Linked DNA regions of Homo sapiens. The protein of the gene in region 1 purifies or fractionates together with the protein of each later gene. This does not show direct contact. Each region holds a gene or a part of one and is shown on either strand. Other genes may lie near its edges.

Region 1 (7,887 bases):
GCACCTTAGGAAGGAAACTAAATCACTTCTAATGAGCAATTAAAGCCCTAGAATGGCATGTATGTAATTTGAGTCCCCAACCAAGCTGCTTTCAACCATAATTTACAGAGATAATGTGGGTATACATGATCAAATATATAAAAAACCCATCTCTAGGAAAATAAAGTAGGCTGAAATTCAACTGGAGAAAGTAGTTTTGGACAATCATTGGTTTAAAAACCATGGGAATGAACAGTTTTTCAAAGCAAAAACATTAATATGTCAAATATAGTTTCCAATTGCACATATTTATACAAAATTAGATCTCAGATAACCAATCTTCTTATAGTATACCTACAAACTATGTACAGTTTCTGGAAAAAACAAGTGCTCTAAAATAACAAAGGAAAGCATCTGAAACAAAAAGATAAGGATAGGGTATCATTAGGCCATGATGTTTAAAGGACTGGTGCTCGGTCTATACGCTTAAGCAATAATCAACAGGGGAAACTTGTGCAATTCTCTAATTATGGGCATACCACAGCCACTTCTGCTTCTGAAACAAAAGCAGCTGGACAACCTGAAGAAAGGTAGCTTAGCTGAAATAACCTGGGCAAACCTGGCTGTACAGACACTACAGTTTCAGGGAAAAGAATCCATTCATAAAACTGATCTTTTAAACAATCTGGTTTTAAACAAAAAGGCACACTTATAGCAAATCTTCACAAAGGAGAGAGAATAATATGTTGAGTATTAACAGAAGAGAAGCATTAAAAATTACAAATAGACACATTTTAAACTAAACATCATTTATGTTTCTCCATGGGGAAAAAGATTTGCTTCTACAAAACTCACCTCCGTGTTCTAGAAAAACCCGAACACATCTTTCCTTTCCTCTTGCTGCAGAGAAATGAAGCAGAGTCCAGCCATTCGCATCTCGGCCATTCGGGGAATAGCCTTGTTCTAGCATCTTTCGCACTGTGTGGACATCCCCAGCAGCCACCGCGGCCTGAATCTGCAACTCTTCCTGGAGCTCAGGGTTCCTTCGACAATGATGGTGTAACATCCTAGCTGAGTCCACTTTTTACAAAGGATTCATTAGGTTACGGGGATCAGCCTTTAAGAAGAGAAGGTAGAAAAGGTAAAATTTAGAATAACTGGTTCCTGATACTGCATCTATTAAATATCACAGAACATTCCATTTGCTACATCAGTAAACCTTACTAATGACAGTGCATACTACTAGCTGGGTGTGGTGGTGCAAGCCTATAGTCCCAGCAACTCAGGAGGCTGAGGTGGGAGGATCACCTGAGCCCAGGGGATCAGTCCCAGCTACTTGGGAGGCTGAGGTGGGAGGACGACCTGAACCCAGGAGATCAAAGCGGCAGTGAGCCATGATAGCAACACTGCACTCCAGCCTGGACCACAGGGCAAGACCCCATCTCAAAAAAAAAAAAAAAAAAGTAGCAATATATTTTAAAACCTTAAGAATCTAAACAATCAGGCCAAGCACAGTGGCTCACGCCTACAGTCTTAGCACTTTGGGAGGCCAAGGCAGGCAGATCACTTGAGGCCAGGAGTTTGAGACCAGCCTGGCCAACATAGTGAAACCCTGTCTCTACCAAAAATACAAAAATTAGCCGGGTGTGGTGGCACATGTCTGTAATCCCAGCTATTTGGGTGGCTGAGGCACAAGAATTGCTTGAACCCGGGAGGTGGAGGTTTCATTGAGCTGAGATTGCGCCACTGCACTCCAGCCTGGGCAAGAGAGTGAAATTCTGTCTCAAAAAAAAAAAAAGAATCGAAACAATCTGGTGATTAACCACATGATCAAATTACTAAAAGGAAAAGTAGTACAGTGAATTCTCATACTCTCTAATAGGTCACAAAAAAGGACTGTACTAAAACCCAACATACAATGAAATATCTGGCCAGGCACAGTGGCTCACGTTTGTAATCCCAGCACTTTGGGAGGCCAAGGAAAAAGGGACCACTTGAGCCCAGGAGTTCAAGACCAACCTGGACAACACAGTGAGACCCTGTCTCTACAAAAAAATACAAAATTAAAAAATTAGCCAGGCATGGTAGTGTGCACCTGTAGTCCCAGCTACTCGGCAGGTAGAAGCAGGAGGATCACTTGAGCTTGGGAGGTTGAGGCTGCAGTGAGCTGTGATTGTGCCACTGCACTCCAGCCTGGGATACAGAGCAAGACCCTGTCTCAAAAATTAAAATAAGAAAGTAAAATGAGACCTCCTTCATGGAAACAGTAACAGTCCAAAGTGAAATGGTAAAAAGTTGCATCTTACATGTGTGTATACAAAAACATTTTTAGTGTGTTTTTAAGCTTTTAACTACATACAGAAAACTAACAAGCTTCCAGAAAGCCACTCCAGGTGTGCTAACTGGAAGGAATAGATTAGACTCATCTCTTAACTAGTAGTCCCTTTGTTTCTAAACATTTTTTAAACTGTGATGAAGCCCTTTAAAGACATTTCTGTTCTCATATGTAGGTTAGACATATCAGGATAATCTTGCTACCAACAATCGTTTATCTTGCAAAACTTACTATAGACTGTACAAAAGTAAACTTAGGCCTAGGTTAAGTCAAATCATTACAACTTAAGAATACAAATATCCTATGTTGTTTTATACATAGAAAATGGTGTCATTACCTACTCCTAAGTATCACAACTAAGTGCTCAAATTTAAAAATATCAAGCTACTTCTACAAATAGCTATTTCCTCAGAGAAATATGGGAATAAACAAGATTGCCTCTTTTTTTTTTTTGAGACGGAGTCTTGCTCTGTCACCCAGGTTGGAGTGCAGTGGCGCGATCTGAGCTCACTGCAACCTCCACCTCCCGGGTTCACACCTTTCTCCTGCCTCAGCCTCCCAAGTAGCTGGGACTACAGGCGCCTGCCACCACGCCCGGCTAATTTTTTTGTATTTTTAGTAGAGACGGGGTTTCACCGTGTTAGCCAGGATGGTCTCGATCTCCTGACCTCGTGATCCACCAGCCTCGGCCTCCCAAAGTGCTAGGATTACAGGCGTGAGCCACTGCGCCCGGCCACAAGATTGCCTCTTATTTCTTCTCTCAATTCCTTCACAAAAATTGTCCCTTCTTAGAAATTTTAAAATGAGAATCCTTTCAGAATAGGTTTTTGCTTATTCTGTTATGAGAGAAAATGCTGAAGACCGTCTGAAGGAATTAATGGAAACATACTATGCTCACAATCATCCTTAACAGCTTTTCTTTTTAATTAAGTGATTATGTTGGCACTTAAACGAGGCCTACCATGCAAGAAAAAGACTGAAACAATATCAAAACAAACCTGGGTTTTCTTTAGTGAGTGGTGTATTTAGTATACATTAACTGATTTAAGAGAGAAGTAAAAGTTAAGTGAGCTTTCCCCCGGAACAACACAGATGACCAATGACCCTGAGGCAACTTGCCTTATGGAAGAGTGTCCCTTCTCCTGATGTACGGATTGCCTAGTAACCATTGTGCACGTACAGCATCGTGGGGAGGGGCTTCAAAGTACGTCCAGGCTACAGAGCAAAAAAGCCTTCTTAACCTAGAAACAAATAAAAATAACAATCATAGGAAAATTCCTTAAAATAATAATCATAGCTGTCTGCATAGTCTACCTTTTGATGAATGTAAACTTCAGTGCTTTACAATAAATCTATAGAGCAGAGAAAGAACTCAGATCAACTCTTACAGAAAATAATCTTGTTACATATGTTCATCTCCAATAAATACTATTTAGTTTCAGGCTTTTCCCCCCAAAATGCAGCTATTTGAGAAAGAGCAAATAAAAAAAATAATAAATCACATATTTGGAATTTGGATGCAAGCATAGATTCTTCATTTTCCTCTATTGAGAATACAGTTTCAGACTTGCTTTATCTGAATTACTTTTTAACCGACACCATAAGTCACCTGCACTTTCTAAACAGGACTTAAATGAGAATACGTGTGCATGAAATATAATAGGTGGCCTGGGTTAAAATAAAATCTATGACAACTAAAAGGAGACTGTGTCTTTAAATGCATTTTCTTCATGTGCCCTAAAGGCATCAAGTCAATCACTTTGAAATTGTTATTCCTTTATGCATACACCGAACTAGATAAAACATTAACAACAGCCTTGCCAGGTTCCCCATGTGAATTCTGAATAAACTCTCTCCACAACTAAAAGAAAAGGGATCTTTCTTCGTGTCAATTAAATTCCAGCTCTGTTAATTCCAACAAAGTTAAGGACACAAAGTGACTTCCACATAAAACTCTAGGAATTACATATTGGGAGAACTACTACCTCATCCCCTGACGGTGGGTGAGCATCACTTAAACCTTCAGACAAGAAAAGGTCGGGCCACTTAGCAACCTGGCCCGCAGCAGTTGTATGTCCTGCTGGCTGCACACCAGAATTTTCAACCAATCCAAATTGGTATAGTCCACTTCTCTCTTTTCCTCTATTCTCATCTACTTTTCCTTGACAAACCTCTTCAAGGAAGGTAAAGAGTTTGCCAACTTGCCCTTGGAAATAAAATTTGTTTTAAAATTCTATTATTATTTCTAAATAAATGAGGCCGACGAGATCAGAACAACTCCTACAAAGCAAGCTGTGAAACATGCAAAGCGATCCTTATACAAATGGCCGATTCTAAGACTGGAACATCACACGGTGCCAGAAAGCAAGGAGGTGCTCAAAGAAAGACACCACGGTGGGGGAGGTCAAAGGGACACAGGAGCCAACTGAAAGATCCCTCAATAGCCAAAGAGGGAATAACTGCAGCAATACTTAAAACAGTACCAGATGACAAAGTACAAAGTGGATATCAAGAGTTCACATTGATACAAATAACTGATTCGATAAATAAAGGGGGAGAAACACATCTGTTGTTCAGAATTCCAAATAATTTGTATAGGTAGTCTCTCCTCAAGGTGGTGACAAACATGTTAATATAAGATGTTAGTAGGAGAAACTGAGTATCGAGCATGTAGGAACTCTGCACAGCCTCAGTAATTGTTCTGTAAATCCAAAGCTTTCCTACAATAAAGTTTATTTTAAAATGCAAATCAGTGTCCCCAGTGATGAGCCTCACACATTGCCACAAATGAATATGCCACCACTTTTCACGAGCTACATCTACATTTCAAGAGTGAACATCACTGGACATCTCACTTCCAAGTGTGTCCTCAGCACCCCTTACTTCCCATAAGAAGTAAACATGACCCAACATAGCTTCAAGCCTGAAGAATCCTTGTGGTTGTTGCTGGCTTCCAACTATCCACCGCCACTTCCATGGAGGCAGCTGGAAGTGTCAGGGAAGACGGCATGAGAGCTGAGCAGAATAGGAAATGGTGTTAATTTATTAACAATATCAAGAAAAGGCCTGGTGGTAAAAGATGAAGTGGCCAAACTATTTCTCCCAACAAGAAAGATTCACAGGTGGTAGCAACTTGTGCTAATTCCATATGAGCTCCTTCAGTCAAACAAACAAATGTCTACAGAATGCTTGACACTTAACGTGGCACAGTGATAGGGTTTGGCCACAGGTAGCACCTCCAGGTGGTATTCCAATAGAGTTCTGCATACTTAAAATGAATTTTTTAAAATCCCAGACATTTTAAGATTATTTTTCTCTTTTCTGAAAATACCAAGTGCTATAAACAATAACCACAGGTTTAAACCAAAAAAGTACTCCCTGCATGTACTAGTGCATCAACGTTTACCAGAAAAAAACATACACACACGTCATGCACACATGATCCCTGTCAGCTACACTGCTTTGAATTACGACAGAAAATAATTTATTACAAAAGACCCCCAAATAGTCAAAAGCATCAACAAGTAATTTCCTCCTGGTGTTACTTTATGAGAGCTGCGCCTGACAGAGTCGAGTCACGTGTATAAATGAAGAAAAGACTATGGAGCTGAAAAGCAAACACAATATCTAGTGGTAAATATGTCTATTAAAAAACAACAGAGGAAGTCCAGAGATGAGAATGGAAGAAAGCCTATTTTCCCTCAGGGAGTTTATTAAAAAACTGATAGCTCATGGAAGTCACCTATAAAAAGAAAAGGAATATAGCAAAGGAAGTAATTTTCTTTTTTTTTTTTTTGAGACGGAGGCTCGCTCTATTGCCAGGCTGGAGTGCAGTGGTGCGATCTCGGCTCACTGCAACCTCTGCCTTCAGGGTTCAAGCGATTCTCCTGCCTCAGCCTCCTAAGTAGCTGGGACTACAGGAGCGTGCCACCACACCCGGCTAATTCATGTATTTTTAGTAGAGACGAGGTTTCACCATGTTAGTCAGGATGATCTCGATCTCTTGACCTTGTGATCCGCCCGCCTCGGCCTCCCAAAGTGCTAGGATTACAGGTGTGAGCCACCGCGCCCGGCCAGGAGGTAATTTTGTAAGTTATGTATGTTTAGTTATGTTTTTGTGGACTCAGGAGCTACTGATACTCTGAGGGTATGATCTTCAGAAATTTTATTCTAGCTTTCACAGTCACAAGGAAAAAAAAAGCAAACAAACAAGGAAGACTTTCTTTTCCACTTGGGGTCAAAAGAAAAGAATCTAGGCTTCCAAGCTTTAATACTATTGACCATATTAAAAACTACTAATTTAGAAATTCAAGTACATTACCATCTAATTTCCATATAGATGCCAAGTGAAGTTCATTTAGTTAAACCCAAAACTTCTTGCTTCACATAGTTAAGTCTATATGATAGAACAGCGTGAAGAATAAAATAAACATAAAACAAAATATGCTTAAGACCTGTCCGAAGTTACAAAACCTTCACCAAATTTGACCATATTTCCCAAATCTCCTTTGGCATAAATGATTAGACATTAATGACTTTTTGCATATTATTATCATTAAAAGTCCACACATTTCTGATTAAGTGATGCAAACTGAACTGTGCTTTCTGATGTCACATAAACTTAGCAACAAGATAATGGCTTATTACTCAAAGAAAGAAATAAGCATTTCTTTGCAAAGTAAACAAAAATACATGCTGGTAAGAAAATAAATGCAATCAGCAACTCCGACGACATTGGGTCTGAGAAAAAAAAAACAATCCTTCAATGGTTCACATTCACAAGATCTAAGAGGGAAGATGGATGGAAAAACACTACACGGCCGTACCAAAACGGAGAACATGGCTGAGATGCCTGTTCACAAGCTCTACTGATATGATCAGGAGCCTGGAACCCAAAATAAGGTATAAGTGTTATTTTAGTGTCACTCAACAAAGTATAGCATAGTGGTTATGATCCAAAACAAATAAAGGTATTAGTATTTCCTCCAAATTACTGGGCCTCCATATAACATAAGGATTTATTACCATGCACAACTTATCCATGACCCACATAAATTCCAGCAGAGAAACCAATAATTTTCATGAAGTGTGGATGAAGCAACAGAAGAAATTTTGGACTTATCCAGACCCAACTCAAAGCTTAAATCACAAGTATTATAATGATGAGGTCCTGTCAATATTATCTTATTAACCTAGGTCTGCCAACACCATCTTTGTAGCCTCATGTGTCAATTCCTAGAAAGTTTGCAAGAAAGGAGACAATCATCCTACGTAGGGAGGGCATTCAGGGGATTATGATGTGGAAGGCTGAAAGTCAGGTAACAGATATGCCCATATAAATCATATCTGGCTTTAGACTTTTTAGGGATGGTGTGTATCTCTATGTCACCAAAGTTAAACGTGAACAAATTAAAGAGATACTGTATGTGTCATAGTATTAACTAATTGTAAATGACATCACTTTATGTGTAAAGAATGTAAGTACTGGCCACAGTATACTAAAGATGCATCATTGCATATCTTCAATTAAAATCAATTATTCTCCCTACGTGATTATAAATCTATATTTGGTG
Region 2 (7,887 bases), on another chromosome or scaffold:
CAGAGTCTAACGTGGGGAGGAGACCGGGATGGAAGAATCAGGGAAGAACAACAGGCAGAGGTGCTAGAAGAAGGGAAAGTAGCAAGTGATCTCTCTACCCCACATTCTCCCAGAACGACTCAAACTTTTCCTCTGCTTTTCACTCAGAAACCATATTGGTTGTTTGTTTGTTTGTTTGTTTGTTGAGACAGAAAAAGTCTCTGTCGCTCTGTCTCACTCTGTCACCCAGGTTGGAGTGCAGTGGTGCGATCTCGACTCACTGAGACCTCCACCTCCCAGATTCAGGCAATTCTCGTGCCTCAGCCTCCTAAGTAGCTGGGACGTGTGCCACCACGCCCGGCTAGTTCTTGTATTTTTAGTAGAGACCCGGTTTTGCCATAATCATACTGCTTCGATCTAAAGTGTTCACTCTGGCTGGGTGCAGTGGCTCACACCCATAATTCCAATACTGTGGGAGGCCGAGGCAGGTGAATCACCTGAGGTCAGGAGTTCGAGATCAGCCTGGCCAACATGGTGAAACCCCGTCTCTACTAAAAATACAAAAATTAGCCAGGCGTCGTGGCGGGCACCTGTAATCCTAGTTACTCGGGAGGCTGAGGCAGGAGAACCCCTTGAACCTGGAGGTGGAGTCTGCGGTGAGACGAGATCATGCCACTGCACTCCAGCCTGGGTGACAGAGCAAGACTTTGTCAGAAAATATAAGATAAAGCATTCGATCTGCTTTTTGTCAGCGGTATCCCTGCACACAGTACTTTAACAAGTACTTTCCAACTGTAGCCCTGTTTTTCAGAACCCCTTCCAGCTTCTCAAAGGAGCTAATAGAGAAGAATTTTATAAATGTGAAAGTCCCAGATATATTGAGGATGGTGTTTTTCTTCTTACATTATTAATGAAACTTTATTTTTGAAATATCCTTCATTTATGGGCTTGCTGTTTTTTCCCTGAGTGATGTTTAAGAAAGATATAATTTTTCCCCTCCAAGTACATATTGCTTAGCTAATAAAGTATTCAGAAATACCATTAACTCACAATTTTTATCAGACCTTTAATTTTTGTTTTGTTTTGTTTTGTTTCCTTTTCACAGGCCAACCCTGAGCAATGATATCAGACCTTTTAAATGATCTAGTATCTGTGATGTTAGCGCCCTTGGGATTCAGAAAGTGGTGTGCATAGTAAAAGCTTTCATTGTAACTCACCCTGCCTAGATATGCAGAAAGCAAATTCAGTGATAAGATCTTTCCTGGAGACCAATCAGCAGCCTCAGGCTCTGTTGGGGTCTATCACAATGATGTTATCTAAATTTAGGCAAGGAACCCTTTCCCCATCTTTTAGAGGCAGTGAGTGTTCTAATCACTTCAAGATAGTATCTGATAAAAGTCTTGGGCCAACTTTTTCATACTTAGAAGACACAACTAAAATGATATACTAAAATGTATCAAAAGAAGATTAGTGTACACTCTACTAAGTGTAAAGTATATTCATACAAAATGCTTAGAAAACAAGTTATGTAACACCATGAAATTTTAAATCATATCAAAATGAACTAAGTCAAAGCAGGAAAAAAAAGAAAAAAAAGTTCAATCTAATCCTACTTTACACCCACAGGTAACTTTAAAAGGAGCAGTGTGCACTGGCAGACTTACTACTTCCAGAGGTGAAGGCCGCCGGCGCCTCCAGCTGTCAGAAAGAGCTCCCTGTTCTGCGGCAGGTGTCGGACCTGCCACACAGTAGATTTATGAGCCTAAATAGAACAAGAGGCATACAACTGGTTTATATGCTAAATGGTGCCCTGGAAGAGAAACGCTGCAAATAAAAAACTCTTACAACTATAATTTCAATGGTTATAAAAGTAATTAAGGTTATTTTCTGGCACATCTCTTTATAATGGCTATAGAGATTTATAGGAACACATAAGAAATTAGAAAAAGCATCATTTTTCTTTATTGCTTTATGAAACAAAGTTCTACTGGATTTTTAAAAAGACAGGTATTAAAATCCATTTAAGTTTATAGTATCAAATACTTATGAAAATAGATTTTACATATTTAAATACCTCTAGTTCATTCTGAGGGGGAAAACACTCAAAATATAAAAACATATACTTTTGTTTATATATACGAAAAATGTGGACTGAATTAAAAAAATACACTTTAGTTCTGAGAGCAGTTTGAGGTTCACAGCAAAACTCAGCAATAAGTACATAGACTGAATTTTAACTAAAATTTATAGACCGAAATTTAACTAACAGCTCCCAGAGCCTTATTTTCAATTTATTGCCATTTACCTGTCCAGTCTTCAAAATAAGGACCATGAGGACTTACAGACAATGTTTATGGTCATAATAAGCTAAGGTCTTTATCATTCACATTAGACTAAAAGATTAAAAACCAGCAACTGGAAGGTTAACAGGTTGTTAGCACCTCAAAAGCAGCCAGTAAATCCATCCCGGCGCCACTGCATTAACTGGGGGGAACTTAGGAGAGAGAGAGAGACAGAGGGAGAGAGAGAAAGGAGGCGGGAGGGAATGAATGACTGCTGCTTTGTAGAAGCAGTGGGGCTGGCTATCGTGGTACACCACATTTTAGTGAGTGATTAGTCTTGACCTTTGATTTCAATAGTCTTTTGAGAGAATTACCATTAGCAGATAAAGACTCATATCTCAAAACACACATTTTGAGTGTGTAACAGTCTCTCAGTGATTAGGTTCAAGCTGTCGAAACATTTTATTTTGTAGCTTAAACTTCTCTTCTTCTTCAGGAAGTTGAGAAAAACACAAAAAGCAAGAGGGGAAATGACCTCTTAAAATACACCAGAGTCTTCTATTTGGCAGATTTAGCAATTACTGGATTAACTAAATATAATTTTAAAAAACTGGGCCAGGTATAGTGGCTCACGCCCATAATCCCAGCACTTTGGGAGGCTGAGGCAGGAGGATCACTTGAGGTCAGGTTTCAAGTCCAGACTGGGCAACACAGCAAGACTCTGACTCTATGAAAAAAAAAAAATCTAATTAGCCAGATATGGTGGCGTGTGCCTGTACTCCCAGCTACTTGGGAGGCTGAGGCAGGAGGATCACTTGAGCCCAGGAGTTTGAGACTGCAGTGAGCCATAATCATGCCACTGCACACCAGCCTGGGTAAGAGGGCAAGATTCTGTCTCCAGAAAAAAAAAAAAAAAAAAAGCCAAACAAACAAAACAAAAAACCAGAGATGACACTATTATGTATAGATAATGAAATATGTGTTGCAAATTATACATGGAACAGTTTAGTAAAGTGATTTATGTTGTTGATAGATACTTAATATATTCTGAAATGACAAAAGCAAACCAATATTATAATTTATAGCTATCTTGTTAAGAATTTGGTTTTCATAAGGAAGTGACAATAATTTACACACAATAATAATAATGAGACAAAATAGAAAGGTTCAAGAAATCCTACTGAATCCACAGGAGAGAGAGAAGCAACGGAGTAAGTTCTCACTTCCTGAGCAACTTGTATATTTTAATCTTATGGAAACAAGGAATCTGTAACTGATCTTTCTTTCTTTTTATACTTGAGGAAGTTCAAATCACATTTCCAATCCATTTCTTGTGAATGACAGGACCTTTCTGCATGAATTTTCTGTAATCCCCCCAGTCCAGAAACTATCTTTTTTTTAAACCAGTATTTTCCCTTTGCCCTGCTTTCCTCATCTATTGGTCTAACGCCATAATACCGCATTTCCCTCTCAGCTACCTCAAATGCAAGGCAAAGTTAAGTAAGTAAATATTTTTGAACATTTACTATAATCACAGTACTCAGTGATTCAAATAATTTCATTTAATATAGCAAACTGGAATATAAAACAAAGTGTAATGAAATGACATCATGTACATATAGTTTATTTTGAAAAATATATAACCAGGTATTAGCACAAATATTATATACTTATTAGGAAACACCAGGCTGGGTTTTGTTGATCAAATTCCTAATATCAGCTAGGTTTCTTCTAATTGCTCCTAAACTACAAAATAAGATTCCTACCTGAGATCTTTATTATAATCAAGAAGTCTAAAGTTGATAAACTTTGGGGAAGTACTCTTTGCACAGAAAAACTTGTCAAGATCTCACAGGAATATATCAAAAATAGCTCCCTTCACATAAAGACCTGGAAGAAACCTTGGTGACTAATTCTACTTATCAGTCTAAACCAAGCTATCATTCTTCTTCATAGAAAGACATTTCCCTCATATTTACCTTTTCTGAAACAGAGGCAAAACCTTTGGTTGGATGCTGTGTTCTCATGTCAAAAACATGGAACTTTCCTTCCAGAGATGTGGCTACTAACTTATTCATACTTATGTCTTTTCTGTCAAACTCCAAGCTACACACCTGAAAACAGAGAATACTTATTATTGGTAGTCTCACCAGTATTACTCAGGAGGCTCTTTTATACTAAGTAAAACAGCTTTAAAATGGTCAGATAATGTGAAAGCACTCCAACAATCATTTATCTTTTAACTTTTCCCATAAAAATTTTTTTCCAGCCAGGCGCGGTGGCTTATGCCTGTAATCCCAGCACTTTGGGAGGCCAAGGCAGGTGGATCACGAAGTCAGGAGATCAAGACCAGCCTGACCTACATGGTGAAACCCTGTCTCTACTAAAAATACAAAAATTAGCCAGGCGTGGTGGCGTGCGCCTGTAGTCCCAGCTACTTGGGAGGCTGAGGCAGGAGAATTGCTTGAACCCGGGAGGCAGAGGTTGCAGTGAGCTAAGATCATGCCACTGCACTCCATCCTGGGCGACAGAGTGAGACTCTGTCTCAAAAAAAAAACATTTTTTTTTTTTTTGGCCAGGCACAGTGGCTCACGCCTGTAATCCCAGCACTTTGGGAGGCCAAGGCAGGCAGATCATGAGGTCAGGAGATTGAGACCATCCTGGCTAACACGATGAAACCCCGTCTCTACTAAAAAATATGAAAAATTAGCCGGGCATGGTGACAGGCGCCTGTAGTCCCAGTTACTCGGGAGGCTGAGGCAGGAGAATGGCATGAACCTGGGAGGCAGAGCTTGCAGTGAGCCAACATCGCGCCACTGCACTCCAGCCTGGGCGACAGAGCAAGACTCCATCTCAAAACAAACAAACAAACAAACAAACAAAAAACCCATTTTTTTTTTCCATTAGTAAGATCAACAAAACAATCTTGGGTTCCCATGCTCAGTGAATGCCTTTGGGGAATCATTATTTAACTTTTTACATTATTTAACAGTTAAGTAAAGGCTAACAGTAGAAAACAGGAGGAAACCACATTCTTTGCTAAAGGTGCACAACTAAGGAACCAAAAATCTGAGCTGGGGAGGTGACTACTGTTTCAGGCTTTCTGATATTGGCATAAAAAGACCTTTTACTTGCTTATTTTGAAATCTTACTACATGGCCCACAGGGGTCTGCAGACAGGCTGAAGGGGCTGGTGACTCCCCCAACGCTGTGCAAACCACATGTGGGTGTGAGCTCATTTTCTGAAGAGAGGATCCAGGATTTTCATTAGATTCTCAAACGGATTTGGCCTCAAAAAGTTAAGAACCGTTGGCAGAGGGGTTGACTCAGATGAGTTACTAGAGGTGTTTTCCTTTTGTAATAGTTCAGAGGTGAATGGAAACATGCTCAGAGAAACCAAAAAGCCTCAGAATGTACTTTACCCCATTTTTGATGTTTGTCTCCCACCGTAATGCCATATTTCTGAGATCAAATAGTTTGATATCCCCATTGTCATAGCCAGCACAAACAACACGTTCTTCTTGATTATAAGCATTGCCTGGAAATCAAGATACAACATTTCACATCCTTATAAATGCATCCTTATAAAGGCTGCTTTAAAAAAGTCTTATGAAACTAACATAAAACTTATATTAAATCAGATCTTAAAAATCACACTGGGTAGTATCCCATCTTACCAATCCTGAGAGGACATCAAGATTATTAATGTGGTATCCATTAGTTTTTTGTTTTGTTTAAATTTCTGATAAGAGTTTGGATATTTGTCCCCCCAAATCTGATGTTGACGTATGATCCCCAATGTCGGAGGTGGGGCCTGATGGGAGGTGCTGGGTCATGGGGCTGGATCCCTCGTGAATGGCTCAGTGCAGTCCTTATGGTAATGAGTTTTCGCTCTTCTAGTTCATGTGAGGTCTGGTTGTTAAAGAGTCTGGCACCTCCCTCCTCCCCTCTCTCTTGCTCCCTCTCTCGCCATGTGACATGCCTGCTCCCCTTTTGCCTTCTGCCATGAGCAGACAATTCCTGAGGTCTCACCAGGAGCAGATACTGGCACCATGCTTCTTGGATACTCTTGCAGAATCATGAGCCAAATAAAACTCTTTTCTTTATAAACTACCCAGTCTCAGGTATTCCTTTATAGCAATAAAGCAATTCAATGCAAAGCAGACTAACTAATATAAGCTCATTCACTGTAATTCCATACTGAAAGGATATGTGAAAGTGTTTATTGAATTCAATTTAAATAAAATGCTTTATAGGAGATCGAGACCATCCTGGCTAACACAGTGAAACCCTGTCTCTACTAAAAAAAAAAAAAAAAGAAAAAAATACAAAAAATTAGCCGGGTGTGGTGGCAGGCGCCTGTAGTCCCAGCTACTCGGGAGGCTGAGGCAGGAGAATGGCATGAACCTGGGAGGCAGAGCTTGCAGTGAACCAAGATCGCGCCAATGCACTCCAGCCTGGGCAACAAAGCGAGACTCTGTCTCAAAAAAAAAAAAAGAAAAGAAAATGCTTTCTACTATATCTGCAAAGGCTAGCAGGCCAACTACAGCTCAAACACAAAGGGGTCTCAGAGAATAAATACAGTTATACCTCTATTGCTTTCTTGGCAGTAACTATATTTGAATGCAAACAGAAACTTTAAAACTAATTTATCTTGAAAAATGTTGCTCTGGTGTGATTCCATCTTTACAAGGAAATCTGAAATAAGTTGTAGCACACTGTGACATATTTTTAGTAGTGTGGATGATCATACCTGAAGTAAGTTTATAATCTGTGGTTAAACTCATCCTCCTGGAATTAATTCAAGGATTTTTTTCCAAGTATCTCTTGCTGAGGAAAGAGTGTTAAGTGAGAAGGAGGCCCCTGTCACTGTGCTATGCTATCTGGGCATCCTATCCCAATGCTTTCATTGCCCCTAACTTCGTTTTTCTCATAAACTCCAGCCCTGCATTTCCACTGTGGGCCCCACCTAGATGGTACACCATCATCTTAAACTCATGATGTCCCAAAATGACCTTACCATTTTCCTTTACAAATTATCCCACCCCTTGTATAATTTTTTCAATTAATACCATCATTCACCCCACAATCAGCCTGAAAACTCAGTCATCTTGGACATTATCCTTTTCTTTGTTCTTCATATCCAAAAACATTCCCAAATTCTATGTATTCTGCATAATATTATCTTCTGAATCATCCACTCTGCTCCCTTCTCAGTGCTTGTAACTTAGGTCTTCCCTGGAATACTGCAAAGAGCTCTTGAACTCATATTCTCTGTACCACTCATCACTCCCGCTAAATACCACTAGTTCATTTTCCTAAAGCTCGGATTTCATCTCTTCCTTGCAAACACCATCAAAAACTTAGAACTATCTTCAGGCCGTCCTAACACCTCTGGCCATTGTCCTGAGCCATCTCTAAGGATATTCCTACTATTACTCTCTTCTACCGTTGGCCCTCCCTATCCATGGGTTCTGCATCTATAGGCAACCAACAATGGATCGAAAATATTTGGAAAAAAATTTGCATCTACACTAAAAACGTACAGACTTCTTGTGCTTGTCATTATTCCCTAAACAATACAACAATGACTGACACAGCATTTATATTATATTAGGTATTATAA

The links. Proteins that work in one complex are often made in the same cells at the same time.
Region 2: the proteins of ASB7 (region 1) and DNAAF10 purify together in Homo sapiens (affinity purification with mass spectrometry; 2 studies listed by BioGRID and IntAct, with this or other methods). This does not show direct contact.

What each region holds. Positions count from the first base shown.
Region 1 is NC_000015.10:100,605,375-100,613,261, reverse strand, and holds part of ASB7 (ankyrin repeat and SOCS box protein 7), read right to left. Parts: intron 3,556-7,887; 5' UTR 3,434-3,555; intron 1,097-3,433; 5' UTR 1,046-1,096; coding exon 835-1,045; intron 1-834. UniProt on the Homo sapiens protein: Probable substrate-recognition component of a SCF-like ECS (Elongin-Cullin-SOCS-box protein) E3 ubiquitin-protein ligase complex which mediates the ubiquitination and subsequent proteasomal degradation of target proteins.
Region 2 is NC_000002.12:68,133,059-68,140,945, forward strand, and holds part of DNAAF10 (dynein axonemal assembly factor 10), read right to left. Parts: intron 5,800-7,887; coding exon 5,684-5,799; intron 4,376-5,683; coding exon 4,241-4,375; intron 1,742-4,240; coding exon 1,644-1,741; coding exon of another isoform or gene 1,643-1,643; exon of another isoform or gene 1,026-1,642; intron 1-1,025. UniProt on the Homo sapiens protein: Key assembly factor specifically required for the stability of axonemal dynein heavy chains in cytoplasm.